Regions from separate parts of the Homo sapiens genome. Here region 2 is linked to region 1. The links come from fine-mapping of genetic effects on gene expression. A gene starts in region 1. The other region holds a variant in brackets. All regions are shown on one strand. Distances are from middle to middle.

Evidence for each region. PIP is the estimated chance that this variant, and not a neighbour inherited with it, causes the effect. A credible set is the group of variants that fine-mapping cannot tell apart.
Region 2: its variant is the best candidate, but not a certain one, in a credible set for the expression of AGMO in prefrontal cortex (GTEx, PIP 0.77).

What each region holds. Positions count from the first base shown.
Region 1 is chr7:15,559,903-15,565,297 of GRCh38, forward strand. It overlaps AGMO (alkylglycerol monooxygenase), which reads right to left and starts at 2,113. Exons shown (of 13, transcript NM_001004320.2): 1 at 1,818-2,113; 2 at 239-369. The coding sequence starts at 1,943. LOC124901591 (a long non-coding RNA gene) reads left to right here. Exons shown (of 3, transcript XR_007060217.1): 3 at 194-298.
Region 2 is chr7:15,163,292-15,168,686 of GRCh38, forward strand. It overlaps a transcript of AGMO not described here. Among named protein-coding and RNA genes, the nearest start is that of DGKB, 260 kb to the left of the region's middle. The variant A/C (reference allele first, on the strand shown) is at 2,191.

The sequences.
Region 1 (5,395 bases):
CACTCATTTCAAAGGGATATCAACAGAGTCAAGATAAATAATGTTTGCGGTGATTTTTTAAATAAGTGCAAAAAATCAATGAAGAACAAAATATCAAAATTTTAAATAATGACATGAACTGAATTTTTTGGGAAAATTTGTGTAAATAAACTAATTCTCCCATGCATTGGGTTCCTTTGCCCCTCATACTTAGGCAATTTCAGTTTTTATGCTCAGCGTTGTTGACCATCTAACTCACCTTGGAAGTCGAGACAGAACACCAGCTGAGATTGACGTTAAAGCATCATCCAGGCGACCTGGTGGCTTTCCTTTGAGAATCCAGCTGACAACAAGTTCAAGCAGCATCAAAGAAATGAAAAATGGAGTTGCCTGGAAAGGAAGTTGCAGAAAAGAGATGCTATTATGTTCCATATGAAATTATTTTACATTTCCTGATTAGTCATTTCAGAATTGAAAGGCCCAGATTTGGGAAGCCCTGCAGGAGATGGTAGACACTCATTTTAGAGGATTACTTCCTACACAGTGGTAAAGAAGTCTAATTATTTTAGACATACACTAAACATGTGCTCAAATTCTATCATCCAATTTGAATATGAAATGTAATCATAGATATAACCACGATAATTATAATATTATAAGATTAAGAGGAACATCTTCCAAATTAGTTTAAAAAATACATTTAGAATAAGGTAGATAATTAGAGGTCTATTGTCTCTACATGTATAATTTAGACCCACTTCAAGAGGCTTTCCTTAAAGATGCACATAATTCTAATTTTTCATATTAGACTTACCAGAACTATTTCTAATGATGAAATTCAAAGAGTAGAGACAATTTTCTGCTTAGAATTTTAGAGAATATGGTAATTTTACATGTTTGCTTAAAACATGATTCAGATTTTATTCATTTGGTTTTGATTTTTGTTTCACATAATAAGAGATGTTTTGAAAGCTCCACTATTGGTGATGGAGCATTGAATTTGGTTTGATATTGCAGTATAAACAATAATAATTTATGAAGATATCAGTGCCACTTTTTTTAACTTAAAAACTCAGAAAGAAAGTGTAATATCTAATCTTGAAAAAGATACGGATTTTACTCATTTGGAAGCTAATCATGAGTTTTGAAGCTTTCTAAACTGAACTCTCAATAACATATTCTATGATGTCATTTTTTTTCTATTTCTGCCATGAACTAGTGAGTGTTGTAGGAATAACTTTGATAGGGTGGGGAACTTCAGTATTCAAGTTCTAATTCTGGATATTTCCACTTCCAATCATAGCCAGGAACCAGAAGTGAAATGTGCCTCTGAGCACTTCAGAGTTTCAAAGAAAACTTGGGTCAAATTCAAACTTAGGAAGTCAGAGCTGGACCTGGTCAAGCTGCATATCCTTCATTCTGCTGAACTACTCTACCAAATGAAAGAGGAAATAGTTTCCCTGGAAGGGGTGGACAAGTGAAAGATTTAAAAATGAAATTGTTACAAAGTTTACTGATGTGGTGTAACTATTTGTCATTGAGCTTCCAATAGCTACATTTACAATGCCATGGAGTCCAGGAAAACTTTAAACTTTTGTTTTTGTCATATTCTGGAGTGACATATAAAAGAGGGAATTTACAGGTGAAGATGGCTATGGATTGTAAGAAAATTCAAGTGGAAATTCTACTTTTGCTTCACGCCTTTAAGAAACTGAATTATTATTATTAGAATGTAATCATTTGAATAATGAAAGTGAACAAAACCCTAAGGAGATTGACCTTACCATTTATTAAGAAAGCAGCAAGAATAAGAGTAGCCTCTTCCAATAAAGTCTCACCTTTTTTACATAATCAGGCACCTCTTCTAATGTTTGGAATGAAGTTTCACTGGGTTTCATCGTGTAAAACAACATGCGAAATCCCTGGGAAACTGAAACATCCTGCTGGGCTTCTGGGTTCTTCATTTCTGCCCTTGTCTGATTCCCAGCTGGAGAATATTTAGGATTCAATGCTTGAAGCCTGAGGCTGAACAAAGAGGACGAGATGTGCAGCTCAGAACAAGCTCTTTGTCAGAGAACAGCTAAAACCAAAGCTCCACTGAGAGCACACTCAACAGCCGATTCTGTGTAGAGAGACAGGAAAATACAAGGATCAAGAACAAGTACAGAGTTCAGTGGGCGCTGGGCCAGAAACAGGGCATGTGGGGGAGGGAAAAGAGGACTCATACCCAAATCAAAGTCATACAGTGCAGTTTGACTGTAGGTGGAGCAAGTTACTACTTAAAAAAGAAGAGAAAAAACATCATAATAGTGTCTCGGAAAGAAAAAAGTGATAACGCAGGTATATGTTCACTCTGAAAAACTGGATAGAAATTCAAGCATCAAGTCACATAGAAAAACCTTTTTTTCTCCTCATTTAGAAATTTACAATGTGTTCAAGCTTGTAGTTTCTTTATTTCCTACAGAGACTGTGTATAGGCGAGCTACTTAATAATAGCTTGAAAGTCAGTAAGCACTGAATATCTGGCTCCTTATTGCCTATCTATATTTCTGTATCTGAATCATGTTATTACCACTTCTGAATGTTTGCAACCAGTTTAGGGGCATTTGGCTTATTACATAATCTACATTATTTAATGGAAAATTGGCTAGTCACATCTTCTCTATTCTTCTTAGTACTTATGGGAACTTTCTGATTAAAGAAGGTGCCAAGATGTTGCTGTGAGACCTGTTTCTGTTTTACAGAAAGAGCTTAAGTGATTGTACCTTTTAAGTAGATTAGAAGGCACTTAATTTATTACATTACCAGTGAATATGTGGAGCTTGCCAGAATAGCCTCAGCTCTTTACCCAAAACAGCTGTAATCATCCTTTAGCTGCCATTTCATCATTTAAAGATGTTTACATAGATCTAATTAAAGTATCAATGCACGATTGTTTTAGAAAAATATAGAAACTATAGATAAGCAATAATAAGCTGCCCAAAACGCTATTAACATTTTGGTACATGTATGGTCAGTTTTGCTATAATGTGATATATCCATTCCTAAAAATCACTATACTGTACAAAATTGTGCAATAAAAACCACGGGACTTGTGAGAAAAAATGTGATTAGGGTAAAATACTCAAAAACTTCATAATGACCCACAAGGAACAAGAAAAAAAGGATGAGAGCCTAATAAAAATGGTAGCACACTTTCACACGTTACATGGTTAAGATATACATAAATACTAAAATAAATATGATGCTTTACCTTGAAAAAGACCTGAAACTTGTTTTGGAAATTAGGCATTGGAAGATTTGCAAACTGCAAGTTACTTTAGCTTGTTGAAATGTGGGTTATCTGAAATCAGACAGAAAGTTGCAATATGACATATGGGTGTCAAGGCTCACAACACACAGGTGAAGTGAGGGTGTTACTATAAGTGGTGGGTGTATTTTGTGCATCCTAAGCCTTTCTGTTTTTCAGTTCAGTTTTTTAAAGTTCAACTACTCTTTTTCACTGAAAATAAAATCACACATGAGCATAGGCAGTATGCTCAAATTATTTTCTGGTATATTAATCACATTGGAACAAATTTAATCTCAAAGCACATGTTATAGCAGAATTGACTGTCCTTTCAGACCATTCCCATTACCAATAAGTACATATGGACATTAATTTTTAATAAAGGTGTCTGGGCGTGGTGGCTCACACCTGTAATCCCAGCCAGTACTTTGGGAGGCCGAGACGGGCTGATCACCTGAGGTCAGGTGTTTGAGATCAGCCTGGCCAACATGGCAAAACCCCGTGTCTACTAAAAATACAAAAATTAGCTGGGTGTGGTGATGGGCACCTGTAGTCCCAGCTATTCGGGAGGCTGAGGCAGGAGAATTGCTTGAACCCAAGAGGTGGAGGTTGCAGAGAGTGGAGATTTTGCCATTGCACTCCAGGCTGGGGGACAGAGCAAGACTCTGTCACAAAAACAAAAAAAAATTTAATAAAAATGATCATAGTAGGCATACTGTTTTATTACCTGCTTTCAAAACAATTTTGGAAATTAACAATGTGATACAAGAGAAAAAAATACAAACAATATAGCTGTATATAAAGTCAAAAGTGGCAGCATCCTTTCTTCTCAATATATGCACACCTTGCACTTCACTTCATAGGGATAACATATCCTCTTGGTGGGGTTTTTTTTTTTTTTTTTTTTTGCCATATCTGTTTTTTCCTAAAAGGGATAGTTATTATCATTATTACTATACAAATACGTTTCTATATACACATAATGGTTCGATTTTGCAATGGACCTTATCAAACATAAGATACAGCAAGTTCCTTCTTGGAGTCAATAACTTACCAGGAACATTTCTTTTTTAGTATATGATTATACAGGTACAGCCTTTTCTTCGTTGTTTTTACTGGCTGCAAAAGTGTGTGTGTGCATTTCAATGAGCAAAACAAAATTATTTCTAACTTTTTAAAGCAGAAGCAATTTTATACAAGAAAAAAGTTGTTACATAGATGATGGGAGAAGTAAAAAACCAAGCAGGAACAAAGAGGTAATCTAGAGATTAGTACCAATAGGAAGCCACTACCATTGTTAAATTGTAGGGACAAATGGAGAAGGTTGTATTAGTAGGGCCCAGGGGCTATGGTCATCTAGGAAAAGTTAGAACCACCATTGGCTTGTCTAGCAAGAGTATTTCCCATGGAGCAAAGCCAATCAAAGCCAGAAATAATACCCATGGCAGAGAGGGAAGAAAGGGAAGTACTATGGCTTCTCCCTTCTTCCTGCCCACCAGTCTCCCAACAGTACTTCCCATTAGGCTATGACATGGTTGGATTTGCGTCCTGGCCCAAATCTCATGTCAAATTGAAATCCCCAGTGTTGGAGGAGGGGCCTCGTGGGAGATGATTGGATCATGGGGGTAGATTGCCCTCTTGCTGTTCTCCTGATAGTGAGTGAGTTCTCAAGAGATTGGTTGTTTAAAAGTGTGTAGCACCTCCCTCTTCTGTCTCGTCCTCCTGCTCTGGTCATGTAAGGCACACCTGTTTCCCCTTCTGCAGTGATTGAAAGTTACTTGAGGCCTCCCTAGCAATTATTCCTGTACAGCCTGCAGAACTATGAGGCAACTAAAACTCTTTTCTTTACAGATTACTCAATCTCAGATTGTTCTTTACAGCAGTGTGAGAATAGACTAATACAAGCTAAATGAGTCAAAAGCCAGTTGACAGAAAAAGCTAGAAAAAGAAGCCTGCTGAAGGTAACCTCTTACTACACACAGTGCTGAAGGAGAAAGGGAGGGAAGAATCAATCTATGGAAAAAGTCAACCAAGAACCAGCACACCATCATAACTTATTTAATTACTCCTCTATTGTTGTGTGTGTAAACGCAGTCTTCCATTTTTAACTAATAAATTTAATGCAAC
Region 2 (5,395 bases), 400 kb before region 1:
TTCCAATTTGCATGCTTTTTATTTCCTTCTCTTGCCTTACTGCTCTGGCTGAGTTCCAGTACTATGTTCAGTAAGAGTGGTGAGAGTGGACATCTTTGTCTTGTTCCAGTTCTTAGGGGGAATACTTCCAACTCTTCTCCATCCAATATGATGTTGACTGTTGGTTTGTCATATATGGCTTTTATTATTTTGAGGTGTATTCTTCTATACCTAGTTTGTTGAGCATTTTTATCCTAAAGGGATGTTAGATTTTATAGAATGCTTTTTCTGCGTTTATTGAAATGACCTATGGTTTTTTATTTTTAATTTTGTTTATATGGTGACTCACATTTATTGATTTGCGTATGTTGAACTACCCTCATATCCTTGGGATAACAATCCCTTGATCATGATGTATTATCTTTTTCTTATATGTTGGATTCAGTTTGCTAGTATTCTGTTAAAAATTTTTGCATCTATGTTCATCTGGGATATTAGCCTACAGTTTTCTTTTTTTTTATTGTTGTGCCCTTGCCTGATTTTGATATCAGGATGATATTGCTTTCACAGAATGAGTTAGGGAGAAATCCCTCCTCTTTGATTTTCTGAAATAGTTTTAGTAAGATTGGTGCCAGCTCTTTTTTGTGTGTTTGGTAAAATTTGACTATGAATCTGTCTGGTTGTAGGCATTTTTTGTTATTGTTGTTGGGAGATTTCTTATTACTGGCTCTGTAAGGCTATGATAAGCAAAACAGCATGGTACTTGTATAAAAATAGACACATAGATGAATAAAACAGAATAGAGAACCCAGAAATAAAACCACATACTTACAACCAACTGATCTTTAACAAAGTCAACGAAAATATAGAATGGGGAAAGAACATTCTATTCAATGAATGGTGCTGGGAAAATGGGATAGTCATATGCAGAATGAGCTTGACCCCTATCTCTCACCATATACAAAAATTAACTCAGATGGGGTGGAGACTTAAATGTAAGACCTGAAACTATAAAAATCCTAGAAGAAAACCTAGGAAAAATTATCTGGACATTGGCCTAGGTAAATAATCATGACTAAAATCCCCAAATCACATGCAACAAAAAACAAAAATAGACAAATGGGACTTAATTAAACTAAAGAGCTTCGACATAGCAAAAGAAATAATCAACAGAGTATATAGACAATCCACAGAATGGGAGAAAATATTTGCAAACTATGCCTTCATATTCAGAATCTATAAATAACTCAAAAAACTCCACAAGACAAAAACACCCCATTAAAAGGTAGGAAAGGACATGAACAGACAATTCTTAAAAGACAGACAAGCAGCCAACAAACGTATGAAAAAATGCTCATCCTCACTAATTTTCAGAGAAATGCAAATTTTTTTTCAGAGAAATGCAAGTTTAAACCACAATGAGATACTCTCCCACACCAGTCAGAATGGTTATTACTAAAAAGTCAAAAAAACAACAAATATTAGCAAGGATGCAGAGAAAAGGGAATGCTTATTCACTGTTTGTGGAAATGTAAAGTACAACCTCTATGGAAAGCAGTATGTAAATTTCTTAAAGAAATAAAAATGTAACTACCATTCAACTCAGCAATCCTGAGTATCTATCCACAGAAAAAAAATTGTTATATCAAAAAGTCACCTGCACTAATATGTGTATCACAGCACTATTCACAATAGCAAAGTCATGTAATTAACCTAAGAGTTCATCAACAGATTATTGGATAGAGAAAATGTGGTACGCATACACTATGGAATACTACACAGTCATGAAAAGAATAAATCATGTCTTTCTCAGCTACATGGATGGAGCGGGAGGCCATTATTCCAAGTGAAATAATTCAAGATATAGACAAATATCACATGTTCTCACTTACGGGGGGAGCTAAACAGTGGGTACACATGGACATACCAAAGAAAATAATAGACACTAGGGATGCTAAAAGTGGGGAGGGAGGGAGAGAATAAGGGTTGAAAAATTTCCTATTGGGTACAGTGTTCACTATTCAGGTGATGGGTACACTAGAAGCCCAAACCTGATCATCCTGCAGTATATCCATGTAACATACCTGCACATGTACTCCCTGAATCTATAAACATTAAAAAATTCTGAAAGTTACCATAAAAGACAAGAGTCTGAAGGGTAATTACAACTCAGAGTTTGAGGGTAACTTAATATGGTAAAACTACACTTCA[A/C]TAGAGTCTTACAGTTCCTAAAACAATAAGCCTTATGTTTTTGTATTTAACCCTATAAACAAATGACATAGATGATAAAGTGTATATTATTTTAAAAGTCGAGAAAAACAAGCTCAAGAATTTTAAATAACTTACCCAGATGTAAAGAGTAGCATATCTGAAAAGTTTTACTGTTCCTAGTCTAGTACAATTTTTTCCATTATGTTACTTAAATGAATATGACATATAATTTAATCTCTTAAAATGGGATATAACACGTGGTTAATTGGGACATTGTAAAACTACCCAAGGTACTTTTTCTATAAATGAGAATCTATAAAAATATTTACATACATGCTTGTTCATTAAAGATTAAAATAATGGGAACCTAAAGCATATTATTGCTCCATAGTAAGGAATTAATTGAAGAATTTATTGTGTACTCATACAAGATAATTTTAAGTATACCTTAAGTGATTTATAGGTATGTATATAAATATGTAAATATTCATATGAAATCTTACTTATATCATTCATTTGTTCAATAATTGTGTACCTACCATGTGTTGAGCATGATACGTTGCTAACAAAACAGACAACGACCCCAGGCCTTGTATACATTCTTATAGGAAGTGACAGATGCTAAGTAATAAACATAATAAATAAGCCTATTATATCGATTCTAGAGACGTGAGAAGAAAAAGAGATGAAGTAGAGCCAGATAAGAAGGATCGGTGGTGCTGAGTGAGAAGAGGAGAGCAGGCTGCTCTATTAAGGGGAATCACCAGAAGGATGCTTGAGCAAAGACTTGAGATGAATGAAGAGTGAGCCCTCCTGACACGTTAGGGAAGACCACACCGGTGGATGGAGCAATGAGTGCAAAGCCCCAGGGCAGCTGGGTGTGTGGTATATTCAAAGGACAGCAAATATGCTGGTGTCGGGAGACCAGAGTGGGGAGGGAGAGAGTAGTAAAGGAGGAGTCAGAGAGGAAGAAGGCATCCATCATACAATGTCCCTTTGGACAGTGTAAGAACTTTGGCTTTTATTCTCAGCAAAATGCTGAGCTGTTTGTAGGTTTTAAACAGAGTAGGAACAGGATCCATCTTACGTTTTAAGAAAAGTTATCATTCCAGGTGCTATATTAAGAAGATTACTTAAGGAAAAGGGGGAAAAGTAGAGAAACCAGTTAGAAGGCCACTGCAGTCATCCAGTAAGAAGCGGGATGGGAGTCAAAGCAGTGAAGGTGATGAGTGGTCACATTCTTCATATATTTTTACTGTAACATCAATAGGATTTCCTAATGAATTCAGTGTGGGGAGTACATGAAGTAGAGGAGTCCAGGATGATGCAAGCTTTTAGCTTGAGAAAGTAGAACTTTGGCATTTCTGACAACTGAGATAGAGAAGTCTTTGGATGGAGCAAGATTAGGGGTGTAAGTGGGAGGTCAGGTTGCTCAGTTTGAGAAATGCTGAATTCAAAAGGGCTCTTATCCATTCAGTAGAATGTCCAGTAGATACTTGGAGAAAAGATAATAGAGAGTGATTCTATTTTTATTTTTTCCCACATTGGGAAATTTCTAATAGTCTAAACTGACATTCTAAATTTCATCAATAAGTTCTAAAAAAAATCTTAGATTCTAAATAACACCATAAATCATGAAAATTTATAGCAATCAGTGTTTTATAGAAATTAAAACAATGTCCATGAATATTGAAAAGTTATTTCACTGAAATATACTAAAAAATATTCTGTGGAGAGTTTGAAAAACACTACTTAGAAATAATGATTGGTAAATTTTGGTTATATATGGTGTTGAAGGTAAACAACTCACATAATTTCAAACATTGCTTTATAAATTAAGCTAGTTATTTAATATCTCTAAAATTAAGAAATAGCTTCTTTCGGACTTTATTTGTTCAAAAGGATTATGAAGAGACTTATATTCAATAATAATAAGTAGGCACATCACAAGTAACATTCTGCAAGAGACGCTAAAGAGTAGACTGCAACAAAAAACCAGGTGACTACATTATACTGCTTTGGCAATTACAACCTCCAAACACTAAAAGGAAAGAAAAAAATATCACGGAACATTTTTAAAGACAATTTTAACACATTTTAGCCATTCACTAGGTTCTTATATCAGACTGAAAACCAAAAGTTCGCACCTATCTAAGATTGCAGGGCTAAGATTACTATTCTGAAAGCTTTTCAACCACTTTAGAAGCCTCTCTAAGGTCAACTCAAGCAAGACATTTACACCTATCAGTGCTTTGGCATCATCAACCTGTCTTTTAGCTGTATGGCAATAAACATTTAAAATTCCAAATCCTGCACTTTTGGAAGATGTTCTGGAAATGAAAGTGTGATTTAATTTTAAATGCTGTGTCCTCAAGGAACACTTCTAAACCTTAATAAATATGGGATATAGACATCATCATTCATGGCAGGACACAGTGATCTTATCTACAGGCAATGAGCTGTCTCTATAGAATAGAAATGCTAGACCTTGGTGAACACACAAGAATCAAAGCTGGTCCTAGCAATGGTGCAGAGGCTAAATATATCTCAGCAAACATGCAAGCTCACGGGCCTTAAATGACCTGTTAGCCACACAGACATTTATTGCAGATTCTGATTGCACAGGGTGTGGCCAGTTAATACCAGCTGCACTGGCCTCAGTAAAGGTACAGGTCATTAGCCAGCACAGGCAGCTTCAGGGTACATATGCTTAGTTTGATTTTAATTTTTAACTATGCCTAGTACACCTACTGAAGGGAGAGGAGATCGCCAGCATACGCTGGTGGTAGGTCTCAGGCCCTAATAAGCTAGTGCAACAGAAGTAAAGAATCAGAAAAAGCAATGAAAAAATAAATAAATAAATAAAAAGGGCGGGGCTTTATAGCCCTGTAATACATTAATAGTTAGATCAATGTTTCCTGTTTCAAAAGCATTCATGAGGCCCTAAGCTCACAAATTTTAGGGCACCACCTGGTCAGCCAGCATGTGCTGCCCAAATTATTACCATGCATCCAGAGCTAAGACGGGAATTGTGGAGAGGCTGACCTTGAATTCAAGAGCTTGTCCACAGACCTGTGTATCATCCCTACCACTTGGTCTTCTTTTGGCTCTGCATTGGCTAATAACATACGAGAAAGAAAGATTCTTTCCTTAGGAGGCAGGCTATTTTTAAGCCAAGGCATTTTCATGAGACAATAAAAATAGT